Regions from separate parts of the Homo sapiens genome. Here region 1 is linked to region 2. Evidence: fine-mapped expression QTL. A gene starts in region 2. The other region holds a variant in brackets. All regions are shown on one strand. Distances are between the middles of the regions.

Region 1 (8,510 bases), 92 kb after region 2:
GTGGCTCATGCCTGTAATCCCAGCACTTTAGGAGGCCAAGGTGGGCGGATCACATGAGGCCAGGAGTTCAAGACTCAGCCTCGCCAACACAGTGAAACCCCGTCTTTACTAAAAATACAAGAATTAGTTGGGCGTGGTGGCGTGCACCTGTAATCCCAGCTACTCAGGAGGCTGAGGCAGGAGAATTGCTTGAACCCAGGAGGCGGAGGTTGCAGTGAGCCAAGATCACGCCACTGCACTCCAGCCTGGGTGACAAAAGCGAAATTCCATCTCAAAAAACAAAACAAAACGAAAAGACTTGATGTGGGCACAGCTGTGATCCCAGCTCTTGGAAGACTGAGGTGGGAGGATCACTTGAGCCCAGGAGTTCAAGACCAGCCAGGACAACATAGTGAGACCCTGTCTCTACAAAAAAATAAATTTAAAAAAAATTAGCTGGGCACAGTGTCATGCAGCTGTAGTCCCAGGTACCCAGGAAGCTGAGGTGAGAGGATTGCTTGAGCCCAGGACATCAATGAGCCCTGATTGTGCCACTGTACTCCGGCCTGAGCAACAGAGTAAGACCCTGTCTCAAAAAAACAATTTTTTTAATTAAAGAAAAAAATAATTGGCTGGGTGTGGTGGCTCACACCTGTAATCCCAGCACTTTGGGAGGCCGAGGCAGGCAGATCACCTGAGGTCGGGAGTTTGAGACTAGCCTGACCAACATGGAGAAACCCCCATCTCCACTAAAAATACAAAATTAGCCGGGCGTGGTGGCGTGTGCCTATAATCCCAGGTACTCAGTAGGCTGAGGCAGGAGAATCGCTTGAACCCGGGAGGCAGAGGTTGCAGTGAGCTGAGATCGTGCCATTGCACTCCAGCCTGGGCAACAAGAGTGAAACTCCATCTCAAAAAAAAGAAAAAAAGACTCGATAATTTAGAACTTCTAAAATCTTGTATTAGACTTACGCTGTATGACTTTGCCTTCTTAAGTTTTTTTTTCATGAGATCAACTCTTTGGCCTATTATTTGGCTTGGTCAGAGAACTCTTTGTAAGTGTGTATATCCTGGCCCACACATTAGAATGATGAGATATGAAGTCATTCATATCTCAACTAATTTTAGACCTTCTTTGTCTGCTGTCATCTCTTTGAATTTTCTAATTGAATTTCTTTCACTTTTTGCTCTCATGCTTAACTCTTGAATTTAGCTTAACATACAACTGAGGATATTATTAAGTAAAATATGGATTATTTAGAGGGGTCTTCCTTAGAAAGTCTATATATGAATATGTGGTATGCTAATAGCCAGAAAGGACAAAGAAAATTAAGTTTGACACCTGTGGGTGATCATCCAAAATCAATTTTATTATCACACCCAAAAAATGCTTTGATGTAAGGAATAAATTTATTCATAAAAGGGGACTATATTAAAGGGAAATACTTTATTTATATTAAGTATATTTTGCAAATGCAATGCAGCTACTAACTATAGAAGTAAAAGACTTTTCTGTCCAGTGCTTTGGAGGAGATAAAGATGTATAAGACATCATTCATATCTGAAATGAACTTTTAATCTAGTAAAGGAACTGTGTATATAATTAACTATGATGCAAAGCAATTTATACTGAGGACTATTAGAGAAACAGATCCCTTTCAGTTGGGAGCCTTGAGGAGGGTTGATAAAAGAAGCCGAGAGGTCAAGCAGCAACGACCCATTTTCAGGTTCCTCCTCATAACTGTCCAAAATTTAATATTTGGTACCTTCACCAGCAAATGCAATCATATAGGTTAAATGTATTCGCTTTTAGTTTGGTAAATTTCCTCTAAGATAAGTTTTCTGCGACTTGTTTAATGCTTCTGTATGCTATTTATTCTCTTTGCATTTTGAACACATTGCATTATTCTGTTAATCTTGGACAGCAAAGCACAATGGATTAATAGGGCAAATAATTAGTAACACATTGGGTGGTACAAACAGAAAAATGCATAAGTTTTTCTCACCAAAGATTTGACTTATTTAAATATCAGTATTCAAAGTGTCAAATGTTTGAACTCATTGATAAGAGCAGAAAATATTGATGTTGTATGTTTTCTTTACAAAGCACTGACCTAATTGCTTTTTAGAATCTGGTGGTGGTGGTTTTTGTTTTTTCTAAACTCAATTTCATCCCCATTAGAATATCCAAAACCAAATCCAAATCTAGTTGACACCTAAACAGTAGAATGTTACATTAGTTTGTGACCCAAAGTGAAATTAATCCCCTAGATGCACACAAACTGGCCTGGCTGGCCGGTTTTACAGTCCACTGCTGCCTTCACTTCAGATTATGTAAACACGTGTTGTGAAACAGCTCTGACGGGAACCTTATAACCTAAACATTGTTCTCTGAAATGTAATTTGTTGTCTTTTATATAAAAGAAGAAATTAAATCAAAGATAATTTGAAGGAAAACAACTCTGGGATTTTGTTTAATTGAATTTTGCTGGGAAATATTATTGCTTGGTAGCACTGGCCCCAAGGTCAGGAAGAAGCTGGGTTCCATCTTTCGCCGGGTCAAACTTCTCAAGTGACTTTGCCCCTGTGCCTCACATCAGGCCCCAAGGAGCCCCGCAAAGTGTTCTGATCCTAAAGAAAGGCATTACATTATGTTAACTGAAACCTAAAATGACTATATCTTTAGGACAATATACTGTTGTGACCTCTCCCTCTAAGAATATTTCCGATGAATGTTAAGTAGAGCCTAGTTCCTGGAAGAGCTTGATGTCCTAATCCTCCAGAGCCACTTAAGCCAATAGAGGGCTCTAATTTTCCCCCTTCTCTAAGTACTATTACTTCTTCCCCAGTATTATTTTTATGTTCCATCTCTTCGGCAAAAATAAAATAAGGCTATGTCTTTTTCAACTTCTCTATTCTCTTTTGAGATGGAGTCTCGCTCTGTTACCCAGGCTGGAGTACAGTGGTGCAATCTTGGCTCACTGCAACTTCCACCTCCCGAGTTTAAGCAATTCTCCTGCTTCAGCCTCCCAAGTAGATGGAATAACAGGAGCCAGCCACCACAACCAGCTAATTTTTGTGTTTTCAGTAGAGACGGGGTTTTGCCATGTTGGCCAGGCTGGTCTCTCTCAAACTCCTGACCTCAAGTGACCCACCCCAGCTCAGCTTTGCGGAGTGCTGGGATTACAGGCCTGAGCCACTGCGCCTGGCCATTCTTACTTATCTCAGGCCATAAAGTACAGGCCTGCGATGGGGATGGGAAATTGCTCACACTCCAGATTTTTCCTCCTTTGGCTCTCTCTCAATCCCAAGTGATCCTATTGTTTGGTCATAGTAGGCACTCAATATACACTTGTTTAATCAATTAATTAACTAGTCAGGATTCTTTATGGAAAATAATAAGGTAATTGCTATTATCTAGGATGTTGTTCCATAGCCCCAAAACCATTACAAAATAAAATTGGGGTCAGCAGGTTCAATATTAGTCATTCAGTCAATAACTAAGTACTGACTGGTTGCCAGACCTTATGCTAAGCACTGAGCATACAGTGGTGAACAAGCCAGATGTGGCTCTGACACTTTAATATCCCTCACCAACCTCTAGGCATCAACAACCAGGTCATCCTTCCAGGTGTCACCGAAATGCCAGGCTATTGCCCCTTCCTGCTGCCTGTCTCAACTGAATGCTGTGCTGTGGCCACATCATACACATGTTTTGAAGAGAAGAATATAGGACAATGTTGCAGTAAGTAGGTCTCTGTAAAGTGAATCATTTTTATCAAAATAAAACTGCTTTTAAAAAGTTAGAGCTGGGTGCCGTAGCTTGCACTTGTAATCCCAGGTACTCAGGAGGCTGAGGTGGGAGGATCACTTGAGGCCAGGAGTTTGAGACCAGCTTGTGCAACATAATGAGACGCTGTCTCTGAAAATAATAACAGAAAGTTAACCAGGCATGGTGACACACTTGCCTGTAGTCCTAGCTACTTAGGAGGCCAAAGCGAGAGGATCGCTTGAGGCCAGGAGTTCAAGGCTGCAATGAGCTGTGATTGTACTACTGCACTCCAGCTTGGGTGACAGAGCAAAAAAAAAAAACGACAACAAAAAACCTAGGTTAATGATAATCACATAAGGTTATGTGGTCACAGAATGAACATGAATGACGTTTTATGGGGGATTCTAAGTGACTCATTTATGTTATTACTTTATTATTTAACAGATTTTTCTAAAAAGATGTCTGTCTAAGATAAATCATGGAAAAGAAGACTTGTAGAAATATAGCTACAGTCAACCCATTAAATCAAGAACCTACCGACGGAGAACCTTTAGGATAGGTGAGAAAGATCCTTGGTGAAAGGGGTAGATTCAGGTTTTGTGGGGCCTGAGGCTTATACAGTTTGGAGTTATCTCTTTAAGGAGATACACAACATTAGGAGTCCCAAATTAGAAAGGAGGCCGACCGGGTGCAGTGGCTCACACCTGTAATCCCAGCACTTTGGGAGGCCAAGGCGGGCGGATCAGCTGAGGTCAGGAGTTCAAGACCAGCCTGGCCAACATGGCAAAACCCAGACTCTATTAAAAATACAAAAATTAGCCAGGCATGGATG[A/G]TGGCGGGTGCCTGTAATCCCTGCTATTCAGGAAGTTGAGGCAGGAGAATCGCTTGAACCCAGGAGGCAGACGTTGCAGTGAGCTGAGATCGCACCACTACACTCCAGCCTGGGCAACAAGAGTGAGACTCCGTTTAAAAAAAAAAAAAAAAAAAGGAGCCCATGCAAGTGAGGAGCCTTGACAGCAGCTTTAAGGCAAACCATCCACAAACCACTCTGCGCAGGGGCAACTGGAAGGAATGTTAGAAGGAGGAATAAGAAGAAATGTTTCAGTCACCTTGTTTGATTATGTCAAGCTCTGAGTTTCTCCACTACCTTTAAGAACTGCAACTTTTACCAAACCTAAGCATTATTTCTGGAACAGTTAAATTGGATTTAGCAAAATAGCATGGGATACAAATTCAGTAATGGTTGAGATCAAAGTAGGACATTTTTCTTTTTTAGATTGGAAAGTTTTTACCTGGGTATGGGTCTTTTAAGAGATACTTTCAGCAATATTGAAGAATTCAAAGAACGGTTTAATTTTCAAAGAGTTTCTAGTATTAGTCTATCTTAGCGATGAGGAACCTTTTAAGGGCTCTTGACGCATAAAACAAACAACCAAGAGCAACATTAGAGTAAGGCAACATTTCTTTATACTCCACCTTGTTCCAGAAAGGATCTAATTCTACTGCACGAAAGTGCCCAGCTTTAAAGGATTAATGTTAAGTTTTTTTTAGAAACTAAATTAGAAATTTATGACACTCCTTGAGGAGAGGAAACTAAGACTTAATTCACATAAATAATTTTATCACTCCTCGGTGCTGTATTATATATAAAACCTTTATTGCAGATAGATTAAAGCCCAATCCAATGCAGTAAACTTTTACTCATTGTCCTAGAGTTGGAAATGCAAAGATAGAGCCATCATTTCTAGTGCTGCCAGAGTTATCTTTAATTAATATGAAACTGACTATGCCTTTCTCTGTAAAATCCTTCAGTGCCCCAGTAGAAAAATAGGCACAGGGCTGAACATGGTGGCTCACATCTGTAATCCTAACACTTTGAGAGGCCAAGGCAGGAGGATCACTTGAGCCCAGGAGTTCAAGACCAGCTTGGGCAACATATCAAGACCTCATCTCTCCTAAAAATTAAAAAATTTGCCAGGCATGGTGGCATGTGTCTGCAGTCCTGCATCCAGAGTTGGTTCCTTCCAGTGGGTTCTTGGTCTCGCTGACTTCAAGAATGAAGGTGCGGACCTTTGCGGTGAGCATTACAGCTCTTAAAGGTTGCACAGATCCAGAGTGAGCAGATTTATTGTGAAGAGCCAAAGAACAAAGCTTCCACAGCGTGAAAGGGGACCCAAGCAGGTTGCCGCTGCTGACTGGGGCGGCCAGCTTTTATTCCCTTATTTGTCCCCATCCATGTCCTGCTGATTGGTCCATTTTACAGAGCACTGATTGGTCCATTTTACAGGGTGCTGATTGGTCCATTTTACAAACCTCTAGCTAGCTACAGAAAAGTTCTTCAAGTCCCCCTCCTGACCCAGAAGTCCAGCTGGCTTCACCTCTCAATCCCCCCTCTAAACATGACACCCCAACTACTGTTGGGAATTGGGCAATGACCACTCTAGCTACTTCTGCTGGATAGGGGCGAAGAAGGGGCCCTGCAGTGGTAGTGTCCTCCAGAGGGGAACTCTCTAGGCCAGTCAAAGATCCAGGGGTCCTCAGTAGAAGTTTTGAGTTGAGCTCATTTGGGGTTCCATTTGTAAGACCATCTGTAGCTTGATGGCCTCCATCCTGGAGGAAACAAATTTGACAAGCAGGTTAAAAATACAGGGCCCGAAGGTGAGTAATAGCAAGATGGCTGTCACGGGACCTAGAAAGGGGAGAAGCCATGTTGCCCAACTCCAGAGGTTGGTATAAGAGTTTGAAAGGTGTTGTCTGATTCAGAAGCCTTTTCCTGTAAATGCCAGGCAGTGTCTCATACTATCCCTGACTGGTTAGTGTAAAAGCAACACTCTTCCCCTAAGAAGGTGCACAGTCCTCCTTTCTCAGCAGTGAGGAGGTCTAGGCCTTGGCGGTTTTGGAGAGTTACTGCTGCCAAAGAGTCTATTTGGGATTGTAGAGTAAGGATAGATTTTGTTATTTCTTGTAAACTGTCAGAAATCTTTTGAGAGTGTGTGGTAGTAGGATAGTGAAGTAGATAAACTGGCTATTCTGGTTCCTGTAGCAGTGGCCATTCCTAACCCTTTAAGTAGGGGTATTAGTTGTATGGCTCTGTGCTAACTGACTTGAGCTTTGAGGGGTACTGATAGGGTCTGATTTCCACAAGCTTTGAAGTTAGGATAACACATTTTATACTGTTAACTTTTAGCAAACTTTACTTCTGTTGAAAACCTTGTAAGTTTGGGATATCAATTATTCTTTGCTATTAATAAGACCTCATTCAGTCCATATTAACTTAAAATTGGTATAGATGGCTCCTTCCTGATTCTGTAAGTACTTTAAGGTTTAGCTGAGGGCAAACAGCTTGCGTGTTTGAGCAGATCAATTATTAGGCAATTTTCCTAACTCTGCTTTTACAAGAGTTTCCTTATCACTTACTGAATACCCATTGTGTCTTTTTCCCTTAATTGCCTGAGAGGAACCATCTATCTTCCTGTCCTGAAGGGAGTTCTTCCTAAGTCTGGTCGGACCTTTGTATAGTAATTAACTAAGATTTAGATCCCCTGTTAGGAAACCTGCTGGGTTAAGGATTTTTGATAGGAAGGCTATGGGCTGTCAGTGCCTCAGTGTTTTTGGGCTACGCCCTTGTTTACACTGACAACAAGGTGGTAATGGAGTGTTATGGAGTGTCATGGAGAAGACATTCAATTATCAATTATAGGTTTTAAATTTACCCTGGCTTTTAAAGGAATAGGGTACACTGTTTTTTCTTTACTACTTCTATCTCTCTTTCTCTCTCTCTGACTCCTTGTCTGTCTCTCTCTTTCTCTCTGACTTCCTCTTTGTCTCTGTCTCTTCCTCTCTTTCCTTCTCTCTTTGACTTTCTGTCCTCCCCCCCATTCTCTTTGACTTTCTGTTTTTGCCCTCTCTCTCTCTCTCTCTCTCTGACTCCCTCTTTGTCTCTCTGTCGTTAAGCACCCCGAGGGGAGACAACTATGCCCCCGTGAAAGTCCCCATTCTGTTTCAGTCGGGAATACTGGGGCTTAATCTGTTGGAGAGGGTTGTTCTATACCAAGGGTCCTTCCGTAGGTATTTCCGATGGGAGGTTCTGCCTGGCAGCAATTTTGGCCTCAGCATCTGCCCGATGGTTTCCTTCTGCCTTTTCTTCTTCACCTTTTTGATGGCTTTGGCAGTGTAAGACTGCCAGCTCCTTGGGTTTTTGCACTGCATGCAACAGCTTCATGATTTCCTTGTGGTATTTAACGGAGGTTCCCCCAGATGTTAGGAATTCCTTTTCCATATTGCAGCATGGGCACGTAGGATTAGATAAGCATACTTGCTATCTGTATACACATTTATCCTTTTTCCCTTTCCCAGTTCTAAGGCTCAGGTAAGTGCCACTAGTTCTGCTAACTAGGCACTGGTTCCTCGGGGAAGAGGCTTACTTTTGAGTACTGTTACATTACTAACTATGGCATAACATCACTAACTATGGCATAACCTGCCTTCCGTATCCGATTATCCACAAATCAACTTCCATCGGTATATAAGATTAGGATTAGCTAAGGGGACTTCTAAGAGATCCTCTCCGGTGGCATAAGTCTGGACTATAATTTGTTGGCAGTCATGCTTGATTGGTTCTCCATCCTCTCGGAGAAAAGTGGCAGGGTTGAGGGCCGCACACATGTGTATTTGAAGCACCGGTCCCTCAAGGAATAGCGCCTGGTATCTAAGCAGGCGGTTGCCTGATAGCCATAAACTTCCTTTGGCACCTATGCCA
Region 2 (8,510 bases):
TCCTTAAAAAAGAGGAGTTACAAATCCAAAAATAGAAAACTACTTACTTTTAATTTCACCTATGTAGTTACCTTTACTGATATTCTTTAGTTCTTCATATGGCTTTGAGCTACTCTCTCCTAGCCTCTTTTCAGGCTGAAGGACTTCCTTTAGTATTCCTTGTAGTTATGAACTCCTTCCGTTTTGTTGTTCTAGGAACATATTTATTTCTCCTTCATTTTTTAAGGATACTTTTGCCAGATTCAGGATTCTTTTTTGGCTTTTATTCGCAGCACTTACGTCATTCCACTGCTTTCTGAGCTCCATGGTTTCTGATGATAAGCCTACTGTTAATCTTAATGAAGATTCCTTATACATGACCAGTCATTTCTCTCTTGCTGTTGTCAAAATTCTCTGTTTTTGTCTTTTAACAATTTAATCACAATTTGTCTTGGTGTCGATCCCTTTCAATTTATCCGCCCTGAAGTTCATTGAGCTTCTTAGATGTGTAGACGCCTGTCTTTCATTAAATTTGGTAATTTTTCAGCTATTATTTCTTCAAATATTCTTTACACTCCTTTATTTTCTCCTCTCCTTTTGGAATTCCCACTGTGCAAATGTTTGTTTGATAGTGTCCCACAATCCTTACAGGTCTTGTTCATTTTTCTTATTTTTTCTTTCTGTTCCTCAAACTGTATACTCTTGATGTATCTTCAAATTCCCCAATCTTTCTTCTGCCTGCTCAAATCTGCTATTGAACCCCTCCAGTGAACATTATATTTCAATTATTGTGCTTTTCAACTCCAGCAACTCTATTTGCTTTCTTTTTATAATTTCTACCTCTTTAATAGTATCCTCTATTTATTGAACAATTCACTTTTCCTGGTTTCCTTTAGTTATTGTCTATTATTTTCTTTGTTCTTTGAGCATATTGAAGACAGTTGACAATGTCTGGGCTTCCCAAAGGAATGTTCTTTAAAAATGTTTTCCTTATAAATAAGCCATACTTTTTTTCTTTGCATGCCTCATAATTTTTTCTTGTTGACAACTGGACATTTTGTATATAATATGGTAATTATGGACATCTGCTTCTCCCACTCCCCACCAGAGTTTGTTGTTGTTTATTTCTTTTATTAAATGTCTCAAACCAAAAAATAAAAAGATAAAAGCCCAAAATGCGAGAAAACACTCCCAGTCTTTGCCAGTTAGCTATGTGTTCTGGCACCCCTTCAATGCTTAACGAGGTAGTTTACAACGCCACCTTAGCCTTCACTTCCTGCTTGCATGAAAGCTGACGGTCAGTCAGAGGTGAGAGTTTACGGTGTTCTTAGGTTTTTCTCTGAGTATGCATCCAGACCAGGGCATGCCGATGGCCTTCTAGATTCCCCAGAATAAAATGAAGCTTTCCAAAGCCTTTATTCCCCCAACTATCTCCTTCTCCAGCCTCTTCCTTCCCAGGATTTTTGGTCTGTTTATTGCTTGTCCTGGCTTTCATACCTTGCTTTCTGTGACACTGGCTGTTTGCCTTTAATGTTTTTGACAAACACTGCCTGGGAAGCTGCCTGAGCCCTGAGGAAGCTCTGAGGCAGGTGAAACAAAGGCAAGCCGTTGAGTTGAACCTTCAGGAAACCATCAGGGAGGTCAAAACACACCTACAATTCCTTGAGGATAAGGTCCATAGTGCTCCCTCTGGTGCCAGCAACCCACACCAGGAATGTGGCTGCCATCTTCAAGGCCACTGACAACTTGGAGAATAGAAGATGACCACAGAACTCTCTTACCAAAATTCAGCAGTTTTTTCTTCATTACATGTTCCCCTGGATTTTGTGAGTTTTTTTTATCAGTTTCAGAGTTTCCAAAAAAGGTGCTCCTGACAGTTTTGCCAGCTTATTCATTTTTGAGTTCCCTACTTTTTTCCCATTTTTTGCTGACATCATTTCATACTATTTACTTTTGTGTTTCCCAGCCTTGCTTGAAATTATTTTCTCAGCCTGGAATGCAGAAAAAAAAGAAAGGTTGCTATCACTGAAACTATCAAAAGAATGTATTACTGACTTGTGTTACTTGACCAGCCCTGACTTGAAGGCAGGGCCAATGAACAGTTAAAAAAGTTTTTGAACAAGAATACCATCAGCAAAACAACTTTTATCTCCCTTAAAGACAACATTCATTAAATCGTTTGCCTTGCATTTGTCAAGCCCTCCATAATAGACGCAATGTTTGAGAGCACGCAGGCTTTGGGATAAGATCTTAGTATGAATTCCAGATCTTCTGCCACTTAGTAGTTGTTTAGCCTTGTACAAGGCACTTAAATTCTCTGGGACTATTTCCTTTTCTGTAAGACAGGAAAAATATACATTTCTAGAGCTGTGATAAAGACTTAAAGAGATATTATCATTTCCAGAACTGTGGTAAAGACTTAAAAAGATATACACGTAAAATTCTTGGCATTCAATGTTAGCTATTTGTTAAATTTGAATTTTTATTTTATTTTATTTTAGAGACTGAGTCTCGCTCTGTCGCCCATGCTGGAGTGCAGTGGCACAATCTTAGCTCATTGCAACCTCCGCCTACCGGATTCAAGCGATTCTCCTGCCTCAGCCTCCAGAGTAGCTGGGATTACAGGTGCACACCACCACGCCTGGCTAATTTTTGTATTTTTAGCAGAGACGGGTTTCACCATGTTGGTCAGGCTGGTCTCAAACTCCTGACCTTGTGATCTGCCCTCCTCAGCCTCCCAAAGTGCTGCAATTACAGGTGTGAGCCATCGCACCCAGCCTAAATTTGAATTTTCAAGTTTAGGTTTTTTGTTTTGTTTCGTTTTGTTTTTGAGACAGGGTCTTGCTCTGTCACCCAGGCTGCAGTGCAGTGGCACCATCATAGCTCACTGCAGCCTTAACTCCTGGCCTCAAATGATCCTCCTGCCTCAGCATCCCAAGTAAGCTTGACTACAGGCAGGTGCCACCCTGCCCAGTTAATTTTTTAAATTCTTTTGTAGAAATGGGGTCTCCCTATGTTGCCCAGACTGGTCTCCAACTCCTGGCCTCAAGTGATTCTCCCACCTCAGCCTCTCAAAATGGTGAGATTACAGGCATAAGCCACGGAGCCGGTCTAAATTTTTAGTTTTTTTTCTGGCATTACAGACACTGTTTCTTCTGGTTTAAACAGAAAAAAGAAAAAGAAACAAAAAGAGCCACTGGCTTCCTTTGTAAGAAGAGCTTAGGGTGGCCATATGCTTTTCAGGGACTGACCTTGAACTGATTTTCATAACAAGCACATTAATTTTACTTAGACTGTATGTTTACTTGGGGAGGTTTTGGGGAAAATTGCTGGGTATGTGGGGTGGGCCTCTAAAATCCTTCTAAAGCCCCTTTTAGCCTAGAGACTAATTTGCAAACACATTTTTAAAAAACAAACCCAAATATCTAGACGACGGAGGGAGCATGCCAACTCAACAGTTTTTTCAAACCAGCTTCCCTTTGTGTCTGTAGGGTCCAAGGACGTAACCAGATCATACAACACGCGCCAGGAAAGCCCAAAAGAGGGGTGATCCCTCGATGGAGGTGCCGCATCAGCGTTTTCTCACGTGGCCTCCGGGGCTCTATGAATGGCAAGAGATTGCATTCCTTCTACTACCCCTCCCAGCCTCCAGCCGGGACAAGGAACTGGAGCAAACTCGGGGCTGCAGTTCCGACTGGACTCGCCCACCTGGGCGCGCCGGCTGCCCAGCCTCCTGAAGCCTCGGGGCTGGGCCCTGCGGTGATGGGCGTGCTGGCCGTCGCAGAGCCCTCTGGGAGTTGTAGTCCGTAGCGGCGAGAGGTTTGACAGCGACCGCGGGCTTGGCGCATTCAGAACTCCAACTCCCGCCGGCCCCTGCGACCCAGGCTATTGCCGCTTCCTGTTTGGACTAGGAGCCCCGCGGTCGCAAATTGCGAGAATTTGGGAAGGGAATCTTTATCTTCTCGTCTAGTTCTCCGAGGTTGAAGGCTCGGCCTGCTCAGGTAGATCACGTTCCCACGTCTAGCAAACTCGCCCCTCGGGGAGGTGGGAAGGTATCCGAGGGAAGGCGGCGGGAAGGGTTGAAGTTGGGGCGAAGCCGGCTGTCACCTGGGATAGTTCTTTGCAGCGCATCGGAACCGTCTCTTCTTTTGGGGCTCAGGGAGGCCATAGCCTGGAGCCGCGGAGACTGCTCCGGAGGCACGGCGCGCGCTCCTCAAGGGCTCAGGGAAAGAAAGTCAGGAGTCCCTCGGGGTCTGAGGAAATCCGAGTGTCTATGGGAGTCGGTGTCAGCTGGAGCCTTAGAGAAAAGATAGGGTTGGGGTAAATGAACACCCTGACCCTCGGGTGAGAGAAGGAGGGAGTAGGAGAATTGTGGGACTTGCAGGAATGGGAGCACCCTTCTTTCTCTCTCTTGAGATAGGGTCTTGCTCCGTCGCTTGGGCTTGAGTGAGGTGGCGCGATCACGGCTGGGAGCACCTTTCTCCATCCCGAGTTGGGGACATCTAGAGGGGGAACATGAGGGAGGAACCCCCTTTGGGCCTTGAGCTAGGACCACAGAGGGGGTGAGGGCCATGACTGGTAAGCCCTCGCCACGCTTTTCACACGACTCAGTTGTGAGAGTGAGTGTGTTGATAGTGGGTAGCTTGACATCTCAGCATAGTAAAGCTGGAAGAGGGGTTTGAGAGCAGCTAGTCAAGCGCATTCTCCTCATTTTACAGAGAAGGAAACTGAGGTCCACCGAGTTGGAGAAACCTACTCAACACCAGGTAACCATTTAATGGCAAACTCGACCAACACCTAATTGTCATGACTCCCAGGCAGTGTCTTATCCATTGCCGTGCTCTGTAGATGAGCACACTATAAGTTGTAAGTTGTACCTCCACCTTGTTTTCTTTTTTCTTTTCTTTTCTTTCTTTTTTTTTTTCAGACAAGAGTCTCGCTCTGTCGCCCAGGCTGGAGTGCAGTGGAGTGATCTCGGCTCACTGCAACCTCCGCCTCCCTGGTTCAAGCGATTCTCGTGCCTCACCCTCCTGAGTAGCTAGGATTACAGCTGCCCGCCACCACGCCCCGCTAATTTTTGTATTTTTAGTAGAAACGGGGTTTCACCATGTTGGCCAGGCTGGTCTTGAACTCCTGATCTCAAGTGATCCGCCTGCCTTGGCCTCCCAAAGTGCTGGGATTACAGGCGTGGGCCACTGCGCCCAGCCTCTTTTTTCTTTTTAATACCTTCAGACATGACAAAGATCTGACATATGTAGGATAGGCAGCTGCTGAGGAGAAAGATTTTTTAAAAACGTTTTGGCCAGGTGCCGTGGCTCACGCCTGTAATCCCAGCACTTTGGGAGGCTGAGGCAGGCAGATCACGAGGTCAAGAGATCAAGACTATCCTGGCCAATATGGTGAAACCCCGTCTCTACTAAAAAAAAATACCAAAATTAGCCAGGTGTGGTGGCACATGCCTGCAGTCCCAGCTACTCAGGAGGCTGAGGCAGGAGAATCGCTTGAACCCAGGAGGCGGAGGTTGCAGTGAGCTGAGATCGTGCCACCGCACTCCAGCCTGGTGACAGAGTGAGGCTCCGTCTCAAAAAAAACAAAAACAAAAACTAAACAAAAAAAGTTTCAATAGGTCAAAATTACCCATGTCCTAACTTGAGAAAAATCTCTCTGCCTCATAAACAACTACAAACTTCGTGTTAAGATAGAAGGTTCGGCGGATTGCGGTGGCTAACGCCTGTAATCCCAACACTTTTGGGAGGCTGAGGTGGGCGGATCATTTGAGGTTAGGAGTTCAAGACCAGCCTGGCGAACATGGTGAAACCCTGTCTCTACTAAAAATACAAAAATCAGCCAGGTGTGGTGGTATGCGTCTCATCTGTAATCCCAGCTACTTGGGATGCTGAGGCAGGAGAATTGCTTGAGCCCGGCAGGCGGAGGTTGCAGTGAGCCAAGACTGCACCACTGCACTCCAGCCTGAGCCACAGAGGGAGATCCTGTCTTAAAAAAAAAAAAAAAAAAGTTGTCACCTATATAGTTGCTTTGTTTCTAAGAAAATAAAATTTACCTTTCCTTCCCCTAGACTTCTGAGAACAGTTAGACTTAGATTCCTTTTCTTTTCTTTTTCTTTTTTTTTTCTTTTTTTTTTTTTTTTTTGAGATGGAGTCTTGCTCTGTTGCCAGGCTGGAGTGCAGTGGCGCAATCTCAGCTCACTGCAACCCCTGCCTCCCGGGTTCAAGCGATTCCCCTGCCTTAGCCTCCCAAGTAGCTGGGACTACAGGCACACGCCACCATACCCGGCTAATTTTTTGTGTGTGTTTTGGTAGAGATGGGGTTTCACCATGTTGGCCAGGATGGTCTTGATCTCCTGACCTCTTGATCTGCCTGCCTCGGCCTCCCAAAGTGCTGGGATTACAGGCGTGTGCCACACACGCCCAGCCAGTTAGCCTTAGATTTCTAATCACAATCTTAAATACTATATATTTCAGTTACATACATAAAATAATATGCTTTTAATTGTGATTTTATAATACTCTAAATACTTACAATAAAGGGTAAACTCAGCATAGGAGGATGGAATACCAACCTGAACTACAAATTGAAATAGTATTGTTTAGTATTTTTTTTTTCTTTTTGGGGTTAGGGGCAGAGTTTTGCTCTGATACTCAAGCTTTAGTGCAGTGGCACTGTCATAGCTAACTGTTACCTTGAACTCCTAGGTTCAAGCAATCCTCTTGCTTCAGCCTCCCAAAGCATTGGGATTACAGGCATGAGCCACCACACTGGACCTATATGGTATTTTTTAAAAAGTATATATGGGCTTAAAAGTTAAAAAAAAAAAATCACTTAGAGGTTAAAAATGTCTACCAGGCCTGCATTTTGTAACATACTTAAATTTCTGTCGTTTGCTAGGGTTTTTTTCTTTCTTACCACTGAAATATAACTTGAGAGCATTTAGTGTTCCCATTGTAGAAGGAGAGATTCTTTGGTACCACAGCGTTGCTTTGGTAATTTTTTTGTGAGACCACACTATCCTCCAGCACTGTCAAATTTAACGCCTTTTGAAGCATTTATTGATCAGGTTGGAAGCATGTTCCAACTGTCACATCAGAATAGGAGCATTATAGATCCTATTGGCTAACCAGTAAATGATTCATCAGGAAGAGATTTAGATAAGTTTGTTATTGGAGTTTATAGCTGTTACAGACTAATACAGAAGAAAATATATATACATAGCATAACTGCTTCCACCAGGGTGACTTTTTTGTGGTGTGGTTCCATTTGCTTTTATGTTGGCATACTACAGAGGTGAGTAAACTATGACCAAATTTGGCCTGCTGACAGATATATTTTTTTCATAAAGTTCTATTGGAACACAGCCATGCACACTCAATTGCCTTTCATGCTAACAGGTAGAATTGAGTAGCTGCAGAAACTATATGGCTCAAAAAGCCTGAAATATTTATTATCTGACCCTTTACAGAAAAAAATATGTCAACCTCTAGCCTAGGACACTGAGTATAAATGTAGTATCTGAAACTCTATAACATACACAAAAGTATTCAGTAATATTCATTTTTAGTCTCTGAGAAAGAACATATATAATAGTTGTATGTGGGTCCATAGTCACATTTATTTGGGCACAAGCTAGTGTATTCTATTGCAGATTGATGCTAGCATCTTGGCATAGATTCTATAGATTTATTTTTGCAAAGAATTGTGAAAAGACATTTCTGAGCCTAGTATGGAAAGGGCTGATATTCTTTGAGATACGCCAATAATCACAGTCAATACCTTTTTAAAATAATGTCATACCAGTTTACTTTGATTGCTCTCTATGTCCTTTTTACGGAGAGAAGTGCTTCAGTACAGGCACTAACATTTTTTGTTCTTTTAGAGACAGTCTCACTCTGTCACCTGGGCTGGAATGCAGTGGTGCCATTGTAGCTCGCTGCAATCTCGAACTCCTGGGCTCAAGCAGTTCTCTCACCTCAGCCTCCCGAGTAGCTGAGATTACAGGCATGAGCCACCATGCCTGGCTCAGTCACCAACATTTTAAATAAAAGTCGAAAGTACCAAGCAAGTCAACTAAGCTGTTCATTCCCTACTGGGACCTATCTCAGTCTCTTGGTGCTGCTCTAATGAAATACTTGAGGCTAGGTAATTTATAAACAATAGAAATTAATTTCTAGCAGTTGTGGAGGCTGGGAAGTCCAAGATCAAGCCACCTGCAGATTTGATGTTTGGTGAGGACCCGGTCTCTGCTTCCAAGATGGTGCCTTGGTGCTGTGTCCTCACATGGGGGAAGGGATGGAAAGACAAAAGGGATCTAGCTAGTTCCCTTCAAACTTTTCATAAGGTTACTAACTCCATTCATAAGGGTTCTGCCTTCCTGACATAATTACCTCCAAAAGGGTCTACCTGTTAATACTATAACATTGGCAATTAAGTTTCAACATATGAATTTTGGACGGGACACAAACATTCAAATCATAGCTGGACTCCTTATTAAAACCAATCTTAAACAATTAGAGACT

What was found.
Region 1: its variant is fine-mapped to the expression of SLC38A9 in whole blood (INTERVAL, PIP 0.95).

Annotation. Positions count from the first base shown.
Region 1 is chr5:55,615,200-55,623,709 of GRCh38, reverse strand. No RefSeq gene overlaps it. Among named protein-coding and RNA genes, the nearest start is that of PLPP1, 84 kb to the right of the region's middle. The variant A/G (reference allele first, on the strand shown) is at 4,584.
Region 2 is chr5:55,707,687-55,716,196 of GRCh38, reverse strand. SLC38A9 (solute carrier family 38 member 9) reads left to right here and starts at 3,873. Exons shown (of 16, transcript NM_173514.4): 1 at 3,873-3,980; 2 at 4,698-4,745. RefSeq lists enhancers at 2,967-3,610, 3,446-3,635, 3,726-3,775, 4,346-4,425.